Regions from separate parts of the Homo sapiens genome. Here regions 2, 3 and 4 are each reported to be linked to region 1. Evidence: microRNA targets listed by miRTarBase, many of them from high-throughput screens and not tested one by one. Region 1 holds a microRNA gene; each other region holds the end of a gene's coding sequence. Distances are between the middles of the regions.

The links. The annotated mature microRNA hsa-miR-205-3p reads GAUUUCAGUGGAGUGAAGUUC and lies in region 1 at 1,359-1,379, opposite strand. An mRNA with a match to its seed (bases 2 to 7 or 8) in the 3' UTR can be bound and repressed. Matches are read on the target gene's strand: a 7mer-m8 pairs with bases 2 to 8, a 7mer-A1 pairs with bases 2 to 7 and ends in A, and an 8mer does both.
Region 2: the mRNA of PUS7L is a reported target of hsa-miR-205-3p. Seed matches in the 3' UTR shown: 7mer-A1 at 2,226-2,232.
Region 3: the mRNA of FAAP24 is a reported target of hsa-miR-205-3p. The part of its 3' UTR that is shown has no 7-base or 8-base seed match.
Region 4: miRTarBase lists IFFO2 as a target of hsa-miR-205-3p. The part of its 3' UTR that is shown has no 7-base or 8-base seed match.

What each region holds. Positions count from the first base shown.
Region 1 is chr1:209,430,437-209,433,581 of GRCh38, reverse strand. It overlaps MIR205 (microRNA 205), which reads right to left and starts at 1,449; the gene lies at 1,340-1,449. MIR205HG (MIR205 host gene) reads right to left here. Exons shown (of 4, transcript NR_145437.1): 3 at 3,106-3,145; 4 at 1,033-1,378. RefSeq lists enhancers at 1-10, 11-608.
Region 2 is chr12:43,727,576-43,730,720 of GRCh38, forward strand. It overlaps PUS7L (pseudouridine synthase 7 like), which reads right to left. Exons shown (of 9, transcript NM_031292.5): 9 at 1-3,127. The coding sequence ends at 2,801. Among named protein-coding and RNA genes, the nearest start is that of PUS7L, 30 kb to the right of the region's middle.
Region 3 is chr19:32,976,525-32,979,669 of GRCh38, reverse strand. FAAP24 (FA core complex associated protein 24) reads right to left here. Exons shown (of 5, transcript NM_152266.5): 5 at 1,441-3,145. The coding sequence ends at 2,988. It overlaps RHPN2 (rhophilin Rho GTPase binding protein 2), which reads left to right. Exons shown (of 15, transcript NM_033103.5): 15 at 1-1,078. Among named protein-coding and RNA genes, the nearest start is that of FAAP24, 5.9 kb to the right of the region's middle.
Region 4 is chr1:18,906,015-18,909,014 of GRCh38, reverse strand. It overlaps IFFO2 (intermediate filament family orphan 2), which reads left to right. Exons shown (of 9, transcript NM_001136265.2): 9 at 349-3,000. The coding sequence ends at 454. Among named protein-coding and RNA genes, the nearest start is that of ALDH4A1, 5.0 kb to the right of the region's middle.

The DNA.
Region 1 (3,145 bases):
TATCCCCCTCAGAGGTCACTGGCTGGGGGGCAGGGCTTGGCCATTCAAGTGATCGGTATCCATCTGCAAAGCTGGAATCTCCTTTAGAGTGAGCTCCTAAGAAAAACACCACTCAGCCAAGGAGAGCTATTGTATTTTGCTGCCTGGGGCACATTCTGGAGGTGAAAACCGGTTTTTCTGAAGACTTGTCAGGGCCAGGCTTTGTTCAGAATCTGCCAATTTAGCCAGACTGGCTCCTTAAAGGAGACCCCTTTACCTGAGGCAGGGGCCAATTATAAAAAAGGCTTGTGGATGGCATTCCCTTCATAACTGGGTTGGACTTCCTTCAGACTTAGGAACTTTCTCTTGTTCCACACCTTCTCCTTCCTTAAAAAGGAGAAACATGGAGTAACACACACACACACACACACACACACACACACACACACGCACACCCAATCACACTGAATTGTAAAGAGAATGAAATCAGTGCTAAATCTATCAAAGCGTATCATAGACCCTGACAGCTGAGAGGTATTATTTGCTTTTTTCCTCCCAGATTTCTACCGAGCCTGGTGTTTTAAGCTATGTCTTGGGGAGAAGAGACCCATAGAAAGGCAATTACAATTGGTGAATGATTAATGTTGGATCTGACATTTTTATGTGTCAAATATGTTTAACTGCATTAACCTTTGCAGAATCTACACCCATACTATGAGATATATCTTGTATAGCATCGGAAATATCTGCAATCTGCCTTCACTTAAATTTTATTTACATTTACTTTATTACAATATAAATAGGTTTAAAAAATCTTTAATAGAGTGTTTTTACCCCATTCTGCAAGTTCTGCTTGCTCTGTGGGGAGTCTAAGGGCAGCAGGGTTCCTTGCTGATTGCAAATAGTGTCCCAGCCACCTGCCTGGGGACCCTAAAGAGAGAGGAAGCCAGTGTCAATTTTTCAAGTTCATGTCTCAGTTTTAGCCTAAAGGGGAGGTGGCTTAGAAGGCCGGGAGTTGGCATCCGATGGTATAAAACATAGAGGCAGAGAGGCTTTTCAGTAGACAAGCAACTTTTAGTTTTTACAAGTTACAGAAAACGCAAATTTTCATAGCATCAATTTTAGAAAAGAAAGATTAAGGTTCCCATCTGCGGTGCTTTTTCCAATCTGCCCATCACCCGTCCCTCTGAAGAAGCACGCACACTCCAGATGTCTCCTTCATTGATCACATTTCTCTCTGGCTGTCTCTATTCCTAAGTCAGAGTTACTCTTGCTGCTGCTGCTGCTGCTGCTGCTGCTGCTGCTGCTGCTACGGTGGTGGCGGCGGCGGTGGTGGCGGTGGCTGCCGAGGCCTCATGGTTGTCAGCTCCATGCCTCCTGAACTTCACTCCACTGAAATCTGGTTGGGTATGAGACAGACTCCGGTGGAATGAAGGACAAGAGAAGCACATGGATTGTCTGAGGATCTTTTTCTCAGAGGGTGGGGATGCATGTCAACCTCAGCCTGTAGACACTGCATTACCTGGCCAAAGGCCTTTGGCATCCCGGAATCACACATTTGGGAGATGTCAAGGACCTGAATACTCCTACCCCTCCCATAGGATCACATCCTCCAAGGAGGCTGCAGAGAGCTAGTTCAACACGTCCTTGCACCTGCTGCACAGACAGACAGTGCTGAGTTGGGGAGGTGGGTCTGTGGGGCCAGGGACTCTTGACTGTTTCTCGTTTTCAAAACAGCCACCCAGATAAGTCCATGTGGAACCTCCTCTGTGTTTACCTAGTTGGGATGTCGGTCACCCTCTCCCTTTGTCTAGGTCCCACTGTGTGTGCCATAACTGAGCTCGGTGTGGTTGGTCCTTTCTAGAGGAAACAAAGAAAAAGCAGGTGTTCTGCAATTGCTTTAGAAAAATCCAGCTACTCTGAGCTTGCTTACCAAGGCCTTGGAATGCAGGGGCATGGGCATTCCTCTCCACAAGGCACTGTCCAAAGAGCACGAAGAGCACTTTGCAACCCCGTTTGCCAATGTGAAATCCAGAAGAGATAGGTGAGGAGCTCAGGAAAAACCACAACTCCTGGCTGGAGCCAGGCCCATTCATGGGGGTGGGTGGACAGAGGAGGGTAAGACTCCTTGTTCTCACTCCTAAAGACTTATCTAGGAAGGACAGCCTCCAATGGCCCCACATCCTCCCCAAGATGTGCCTGGAAAATGATTCAACTATTTCTTTGTTGGTCATGAGGATGGAGGATTTAGGGAGGAAGAAAGCAAGCTAACCTGGCTTTCATAGACTGAGTCAAATAGGAAGGACGCAAAGTATCTAAGAGTTTTCTGCTCTGTCTTAAAAGAAATGCCCATCAACCCTTTGCGTGCTGTTGCTGCTCTGGCCTCTTCCTTGTTGTGTTCAGACATGCCCATGGCTCAGTGCAAGCCCCATAAAAGGCTGTTCTCAGCACCAACATGCAGGCTGGATGGGTTGGGGCAGATGCACCTTGTTGTTTGAAATACTTTCTTCCTGGGGCTTGTTCTGACCCGAAGCAGGGAGGCAGTTTCTCGTATGTGGCTCCTCCCCACGCATCTAGCCTTCTGGGCATTGGGTCTCTCTGAAAAAGGCCCTTAAGCAAGGGCTTGAGGTTTCTAGCTAGTGCTGAGAAGGAGTCACACTCTCCTTGGTCTGAATGTAAAGACTCTTTGCCAGGGTGAACACGGGGCTTGTTGGCAGGCAGAGATCTGGGTAGTGAGGGGAAGAAGACTGGTTCATCTTCTCCTGCTCTGCCTTCTTGATAAACACTCACAGTTCTCAATAATGAGAGGAAAATGCACCCTGCTTGTGAATTATCTGGACCAGATCCTCCTCCTGCACCGCCTTTGACCCATTCCCAGTCAAAGGGAAGAAAGAGGCCAGTCTGTTGGCTGTAATAAATAAATGATGGCCTGGGATGGTAGGAGGAAATGATGCCAGGAAGGCAAGATTCTTTGCCTTCTCTTTAGATTTCTGCTTAACTCCAAGAGCAAAAGGGGCAGTCAATTCTTCTCCCTCCAGACCCTCGGCACCCCGCTCTTCCCCTCCCAACATGTACAGTCCACTAGATTATTAAAGTCCTCACTCTGGAGTGTGCAGAGAGCCTCACCCTCATGTGGGGTCCGTACCCTCCAAGATGGGTACTTGAG
Region 2 (3,145 bases), not on the chromosome of region 1:
GCAGGAACAGAAAACCAAATACCAAATGTTCTTACTCATAAGTGGGAGCTGAACTTTGAGTACACTTGGACTCTAAGAAGGGAACAATAGGCACCATGGCCTACTTGAGGGTGGAGGGTGGGAGAAAGATGAGGATAGAAAAACAACCTATCAGGTACTATGCTCATTATCTGGGTGATTAAATAATTTGTATGCAGAACTCCCACAAAATGCAATTTACCCATGTAACAAACCTGCACATGTACCCCTAAACCTAAAATAAAAGTTGGAAGAAAAAATAAAAATAAAGCAAAACTTTGGAAATGGGGCTATAGAAGGTCAGCAAAGGGTAGGTTTGAGATGTTTGGGTAGGTTAAGTGGGCATTTTGATGACACAGCTTCTCCTTCGGCATGTTTAATTGGCATGTGATGTTTAAAGGACATCCTTGCAGTTTAAGATGACACTTTAAAAATAAATTAACTCCTAATAATGAGGTGAAGAAAAAAAAAAAACTAATCCAAAGATCATGCTTATGAAGGTCTGAAATGCCCCAGCAAAACTGCAAAAACCTAAGTGACTAGTCATCAGTTGGTCCAAAGCATACTATTAATAATAAAAGTCCTTAAACAAAAAAAGTTTAACATGGCATCTTATTGGCATATAAAATAATATTCCACATGAATGATATCTCAATACATTTTATGGTGATGAAATAAACTTAGTGTTCCTTTATACACTGCTGAAGTATTTACTAAATAAATCAATAAATGTCTAAAATTATAGTGCCATCTGCAGGCAAAAAAAGTAAAATCAATGATATATTTTCATGCTTTCGTATTTTCTGATTGCTATTCAAAACTTTTAAAAACTAGGATTTAATAATGTATATAACTCATTTTATGATTACATTTATAGGATACGATTTATCATATAAAATAAAACATTTTTTCTAAATTTTTTTTACTACCTAATAGAGGATCACTTCATTCTCAATATAACATTAAAATGATGGCAGTAATCCAAAGAAAATCAATGGTACTACAATATCCAATTTTGTGTATTGAGAATTATTTATTGCCAAAACATATAACAAAAAAAACTTTTTAGTATTAAAAAAAATCCAAATACCCCATCATCTTAACAGGAAGGGATTTTCATTTATTTGCTTTTCTCTTCCAAACTTGCATCTGCAGACACTTACTTAACAATAACTAAGTGCCAGGCACTTTTTAAAGTTGCTTTACATATATTAACTTAGAAAATTCTCACAGTAATCCTATGAGGTAGGCAATGTTAACATGCCCATTTTACAGATGTTGAAACTGAAGCCCATGAGTTTAAATAACTTTCCCAAGGCTGCAGTGCTATACGTGGCAGTGCCAGGGTTCAAACTGGGTTAGTTTGTCTCCAATATCTGTGCTTTTAATCACTATGCTAACATGTCTCTTATTTGTGAAAGATGAATTCAGAGTATTATTGCAGTTGTAACATATGTGTTCTACTTTTAGGGGGCAACATTTTCTCATGAAACTAAATTGTTCATTGCTTTTTTAAATAACTACATATTTTACCATCAAGTTGATACACATCATTTTACTTACTTTAGTTACGTAATGCTGGACTTTGAAAACTGTTTTTAGTGTCTGTATATGAAAATATTGCAATAAGCAAATTTTGCATTGCATATAGCTTCTCTTCCTTCTTTTGGATTTTATTTCCTAATGCTAACATTTCCCAAAATGGTTAAACTGGCTTAAGTATATATATCACATTACTGATATATAATGCTCCATACTGCTTTTTAAATTTCATCATTATATCTTACCAACAATGAAAGAAATGCTCAGATCTTCCTAAATCAATACATGTCTACATGCCAGTCATTCCTCCCCAACACACCCATATTTAACTGATATAAAATGGTGAAGGATGATTTATAATGTGGGATAGTTAAACCAACAAAAATTAAAATTTTCAAATGGGCACAATGTTTTGTTCCTCCAGCAACAGAAAATGTGGAGATAATCCTATTATTTGTCATTTATGAAGTTGTAATTGTCTTGATTCTATCAGTAACCACACACAAAAAAATCAACAACATACTCAAAATCACTAGTAAGTGTCAGAGCTAGAATCTAAGAATGAATCTGTCTGACTCTAACACCTGTTTTAGATAATATGAAAAAATTACAAATGGTCAAGAGGGTCAGCGTATGCCAAGATATAAAAATTGGATGAGAAATTGTATTTCAATCTTCATCAAAGATTACTTATCTCACAAAGAGGTAATAACTACTCTGGGGTATCTATCACAAACAGAGGTATGGCATTTCCCTTGTATATTGTTCTGATCAATAATTTCAAAAACAGGAAAGGGGGACAATAATAATTAGCAAAATGCTTCATCTATCTTTCTCTCCAACATTTGCTTCACTGCGACCTAATTTTACTAGTGTTCTAAGCAAGGAGCTGGAGGATATGAATATTCACAACTTTTTTTCTTAAATGTTATCTTGCAGTATTATATATATTCCTAATGGTTTTAAAAGATTGTAACTTTATGACACAGAATAAAGGTCACTGAAACATATAATAGAAAAAAAACACAGGCTTTGGGGTCACATGGACCTTAAATTTGGACCCTGACACTTACATATCCTCTATAAAATTACAGTATCAAATCCTAACTTCTCAGGATGCTGTGAAAATTAAAAGAGATAACAATTATGAAGTTCCTAACACATGGAAGGTGCTTAAGACATTTTAGCCCCCTTTCCTTCAAAGAGTGACATATATATGGTTATACCAAGGGTATCAGTTTTAAACGTCATGCTTCATTATTTCCTTCAGACAAACGGTAGCATAGCATGAAGCATCAAGATCAAAAGAGATCAAAAGAGACAAAGCTGTTTCATCAATGTGGGAACCTTTCGTTTTGACATCAATGTCATGATCTTCCATTAGTTGGTATGAGAGATTACAGGGATGTTTCAAAATCTGTCTATAGCAACCTGGTATATTCAGTTTCAGAGTAGGTACTTTAAACCTACATGTCTGTAGTCCATCTCTGCTAAGTATGTCATGGTACCACTGCCCTACTTTGTTCTTCGGGTACTGAATATTGTATCCAAGTACTGGAAGAACCACCTGTGAAAGAAAAGAGGG
Region 3 (3,145 bases), not on the chromosome of region 1:
GGTTACCTATATCAGTACAATTTGTAGTTGTTTCCAGGTTTGGCTAATAATCATTCCTTAACCTAGAATTCAGATGATCCTGGAATTAAGGCAGGTCAGAGGACTGTAATGATAGAATTAAATTAGTGTCACTAAAAACTGTCCCAAAGTGCTGCTTCCTAATAGGAATTCATTAACCTAAAACAAGATGTTACTATTATATCGATAGACTATGAATGCTATTTCTAGAAAAAGTCTAGTGCCAAATTTGTCTTATTAAATAAAAACAATGTAGGAGCAGCTTTTCTTCTAGTTTGATGTCATTTAAGAATTACTAACACAGTGGCAGTGTTAGATGAAGATGCTGTCTACAAGGTAGATAATATACTGTTTGATACTCAAAACATTTTTCATTTTGTTTAAAGTAGAAGTTACATAATTCTATATTTTAAGTCTTGGGTAAAAAAGTAGTTTTACATTTTATAAAGTAAAGATGTAAATGATTCAGGTTTAAAGCTCTATTTGACTTCCTTTTTTTGTTTGAGATAGCGTCTTGCTGTGTTGCCCAGGCTGGAGTGCAGTGGTGTGATCTCAGCTCAGTGCAACCTCCGCCCCCTGGGATCAAGCGATTCTCCTACCTCAGCCTCCCAAATAGCTGGGACTACAAGGTGCCCTCCAGCATGCCTGGCTGATTTTTGTATTTTTAGTTGAGGTGAGGTTTCACCATGTTGGCCAGGCGGGTTTCGAAATCCTGACCTCAAATGATCCACCCACCTCAGCCTCCCAAAGTGCTGGGATTACAGGCATGAGCCACCACAACCGTCCCACTATTTTACTTTTTAAAATGACATTCCTACTGATTGATTTTTATCTTGCTATAAGTTCGATGACACCGTGAATCTAATAAGGTTCACTGTTGACACAGTACAAGTTACATAGCTAAAATACATAGCATTGAAGACTAATTTTAAGGATTGACAAGAGTTTATTTTCTATTGTGCAATATCTTAAAGGAAGCAACCACCTTTGGGAAAGTGTATCTGCTGCTCCTAGGGCCATGCTTGTATACATATTTAAATAAACATATTCATTTACCCGAGTTAATATTTCTTTTTACTTTTATTTCATTTTCATTCCCTCCTCTTTCAAATTGTTTCTCCCCAATGCACACAGTTTCTAATGTTCTGATTTTTTTAGTTACTAACATTTCACAAAGCAGAACTTAAAAAGCTGTCAAGTTATCTTAGTATTTTCTAAGACAGATGGTATCTTTGTGCTTATTTTTTGTTTTTGTCTTTTTTTCAAGACAGGGTCTCGCTTTGTCACCCAGGCAGGAGGACAGTGGCGCAATTGTGGCTCATGGCAGCCTCAACCTTCCGGGCTCAAGCAATCCTCCCACCTCACCCTCCTGAGTAGCTGGGACTACAGGCATGAGCCACCATGCCTGGCTAATTTTTTTGATTTTTTTGTAGAGATGGGGTCTTGCCATGTTGCCCAGGCTGATCTCGAAATCCTGGACTCAAGCAATCCTCCCACCTCAGCCTCCCAAAGTGCTGGGACTACAGGTGTGAGCCACTGTGCCTGGCCTGTGTCTATTTTTTGAATGGGCAATTTGTACCTTTTGATCCCCAGCCCCTGCTTCCCTCACTAGATGCAGCTGCTGCCATCATTTTCTTGTATCCTTCCATTGTTGGGCCTTTCATATACAAACACAGCCTGTTCTGCCTCATGCATGTTGAGTTTTCAACTTTAAATTTTTTTTTTTTTTTTTTGAGATGGAGTCTCACTCTGTCATCCAGGCTGGAGTGCAGTGGTGCAATCTCGGCCCATTGCAACCTCCACCTCCTGGGTTCAAGCGATTCTCGTGCCTCAGTCTCCTGAGTAGTTGGGATTACAGGTGTGTGCCACCACACCCAGCTAATTTTTGTATTTTTAGTAGAGACAGGGCTTCACCATGTCGGCCAGGATGGTCTGGATCTCCTGACCTTGTGATTCACCCCCCTTGGCCTCCCAAAGTGCTGGGATTACAGGTGTGAGCCACTATGCCCGGCCGTTGAGTTTTCAACTTTAAGTGGGAACTTCAGACTTCATACTTTCTGTGTGCAGAAGACATATGCAGTGATTATAAACAAACTGTACATCTGCCAAAAAAAAAGGCCGGGGGGAGGGAGGAACAAAGGAAAGGAGGAAGGAACTGTTGCGCAGTTATTTATTTACATTGGAAACAGCCCTCGCAGTACGGGTATATGAAGGCCAGACCTGATGAACAGCAGGTGAAACTCTGGGAACCCAGGGCTTAGGATACACAGTGCTTCCTTGTACATTTGTTTCCTTCAGATGGTCACATCCACCACTGAAGCTTTTTAGAAGGCACTTTCCATGACAGATGCAGGTCAAGGTCGCACATTAAAATCGGCCCTAATGCTTTTTGCTGAGTGTGAGTCCCTGACTCTCTTGCGAAGATCCCACCAGCCCTTTTCGTCTTAGCAGAATGAAGGCAGTGCCCTCTGCGGCCCACTAACTTCACAAGCTGAACTCAGACGCTAAGGCAGGACGACCCACGGGCTCCATTCAAGCCTCGCCTCATCTTTCACTGGTTGCTGCTGGAGAAAATCCTTTTTCTTTTTTTTTTTTTTTTGTTGTTTTCTTTGAGACGGAGTCTCGCTCTGGTGCCCAGGCTGGAGTGCAGTGGCACGATCTCAGCTCACTGCAACCTCCGCCTCCCGGGTTCAAGTGATTCTCATGCCTCGGCCTCCCAAGTAGCTGGGATTACAGGCACCTGTCACCATGCCTGGCTAATTGTTCCTATTTTTAGGGGTTTCTCCATGTTGGCCAGGCTGGTCTTGAACTCCTGACCTCAGATGATCCGCTGTCTTCGGCCTCCCAAAGTGCTGAGATTAGAGGCGTGAGCCAGTGCACCCGGCCCATTCTCTTGGTTTTTAAAGCTGAAAACAAGATCCTGGTGTTTGTGGTCTCAGGAGAAGATGCCGTGGCCCTGAGGCCAGCCCTCACCTGGGCTGCGTGAAGAAGGCATGGATCTGCTGTGCCACTGCTTGTCCGACCACCTGCTCCAGTTCCCCAATGGAAGCATTACTCAGTTGCTGGATGCTTGGAAACTTCTGGAGGAGAAGGGGAGCTTTAACTTTTCCAACTCCTGGGATCTGCT
Region 4 (3,000 bases), 190 Mb from region 1:
ATGGCCTCCTTTTGAGCTCTGAGTCATTCAGGTTTTACTTAGCACCTACTATATGCCCAGACATGGGTTAGGTGCTTGGAGAGTAACAGCCAAACTTGATCCACGGTCCAGCTCCCAAGGGGCTTTCTTCCTAGAGAAGCCAACACAGCCAGACCAAGTAGGGGCTGGTGCAGGGGGTTACCTCGTGAGCTTAAAGGATCTTAAGGATAGCTGAGTGAGGCAGGAGCTCAGGACCAGGCCCCTCTGAGAGTAGATCTTATAGAAGTGGCAGCTCAGCCTTCCCACTCCTTGACCCTTCAGAGGCCCAGGGCTGCTCTCTGAATTTCCCCACTCTCTTGTGCTTCTCAGGAATTCACCGTCCCCCAGCTCCGTGGCCAGCAGCGACTCAGGAAGTACAGATGAGATCCAGGATGAGTTCGAGCGCGAGGCGGATGTGGAGCCCATGGTCAGCTGATGACTGAGGCCCTGCGAGCCTGGTGGTCTTGGTGATGGGGCCCTGCCACCTCTCCTCATGGGGCCAGGAAGGCCCCTCGGAGTGGGGTTCGAAGCCACACCACACAGACTTTCTCTGCCCTCCCTTCTCTGGAGGCCCTGAGGGACTGCTGCTTCCTTCCTTCCTTCCACACCACCAACGGGTGCCCCGTCTCCATCCCCCACCCACCCAAGGAATGGTGCTGTCAATTTCTATTGTTCTCCACATTACAAATGCAGACTTCTGTGCGGACTTTGCAGTGTTAACTGTGCCTTCTCCCTTAAGCTGAGCCACTTTGAGCTCCAAAGAATTATTCCTAGCAGGTGTTTTTATACAGAACTCTAAGCTGAGGGCCGGGCCAACCGGCCGTGGTGTAATGTGGTTTCTGCCGTCCGTCCCACCTGCTCCTCTGATTGGCCATGGGCTATGCCCTCCCTTCCTCCTGAGCCAGCCCAGACTCGGCCTGGAGCTTGGGGTGCTCTGCCAACCCCCAGGAAGGAGCCGCTTGCCTCTGTGAGCTTTCTAGGCCTGGGTAGGGACCACCCCAATTTTCTCACTCCCTGAAGGAGAGAAAGGTGGAAGGAAGGGAAGGAGGACACATTTTAATTTTTTGGGGGGATCGAGTGGCAAAGTTGAAGGGACAAGGCACTGTGAGGGGAAGGCAGAGCCTCACTGTGTTTAAACTACTATGCAAAAAACAAAACAAACAACAAAAGCAGCTTGCCTTATATCATTGTGGAAGGCAGGACCTCTCCTGGGCTCCTGGCTTCCCCCTGGAGCTGGGAGAGAGGCCGGGGTTAGGGTGATCTGTGTGGCAGCACTGACTGGGTAGTGTGGGTTTGGCCGAGGTTGGTCATGAGGCTGGGGTTCCCGCAAGGCACTGGCCTCCCTGACCGCTTGCTTCCTTCCGGACCTCTGGGTTCAGGGCGGGGGCGGAGGGATCCTTGATTTCCCTGATAACTTGATGTTCTTCCCTCCCTCGCCAGCCAACAATAGAGGCTTAGAGATCTGTAATTTCTCTGTGAGAAAGTCTGAAGGGGCCAGGCCTGGTCTCTGCTCCCTTCTACCCGCCTTGGGTTAGGACTGTCCGGCAGTTGCCTGCTTTTGGCTGCTGGCAGGAGAGAAGCAGGGTGGGCTGCTGGCAGTGCAGGAGCTGGAGTGAGGGCCATCCTCTTTCTGCTCCTCGACACACGCAAGCCGCTCTCAGCAGTTCCCTCGACTGGCCAGTCGGGGTATTGATCTGAGCCAGCATCCCCCAAGACTTGAATGGCTTGAGTGGGACTGCGTTGAAGGGCACTGTGTGGCCCCCTTCCAAATCTCAGCTTGGAGCCAGCTGAGCAGGCTTTGCTTTATTATTATTTTTTAAGCCTACTGCAGTGGGTCTGTTGCCAATTTTAATTTTTTATTGTCCCAGGAGCTCCCTCTAGTGGTCAAGGTAGCAAAATGTGCCCAAGGACTAGAACTTGGGTCCCTCTGCCTTGCCTGGAGGCAGAAGGAGGGGGCTCTGGGTTTGACTGGGATTGTGGTCCCCAGGGGTCCGTGGCCTTTAAGGCTCTTCTCTCTTTTCTGTTTCCCCCACCTGTGTTACAGTCTTAAAAATACTGTACATAAAAGATATATGTAGAGAGAGAGAGAGAGCGTGAGAATGTGTTAGTGACTATGTGTGATGTAATTTATCACGATTTGGTGGCCTTCGTCATGAGTTTTTTCCTTTGTTTTCTTTTGCTGGGGGCACCTCCCACGGGTCCCCTGTGGCAGTCTGGCTGTGACACTTCCATAGTCAGCATCTCTTGTTAGCCAAACAGTTCCCTTTGACAGGTACTTGGAGGGACAATGGTTTTGGAAGAGAGACGGCCCTTCTCTCTCCTCACTCACCCTTGTTCTAAAGGTTACAGGGTTCAAACATACCTGATTCTTGTTGTTATTGTTGTTGAATTTTTATTTTAACCAAAGGTTATCAGAGCCAGTTGGGCTTGGACCTCAGCTGCTAAAAAGATTTTCCGTTTCCTCGAGGGCAGGAAAACATCCACCCTCGTGGGTCTCCTCCGTCCAGGGCCGAGGGAGGCATTGGACAATGTGGTATGGGAGTTTCGTGGGCAGCGTGGAAGCCGGCCCTGGGTTGTTCCCCAAGGTGGTGGGAGGGTGACAGATATATCTTTAGACTTAAGACTGTAAGGCAGCAGTGTTAGCATGGGAGTAACTAAGGTTACTGTGGTTATCGGTGTCCGGCGGTATTATTTTTACTTTCCTCCTTGTATACATAGGTCATTTGTCTTTGAGGACTAGGGTACTCTAGGGAGTTTGAAAACTGCAGGAGCCAGAAAGAGATCCTGGCCTGAGAGTCCCTTCTGGCTGGCTTTTAATATCTGCTCTCCTCTTGGGAGTGAGGACTTGGGGCAGGTGGGTAGGAGAGGGAAAGCCAGAGTGTGATGGGCCTGCCTCCTGGGCTGGTTCCTGGGTCCGGCCTGCCTGCCTGCCTGCCTGCCTCTCCACCACATGCTTTTTTCAGTTAATGTCAGTGGGCCCTG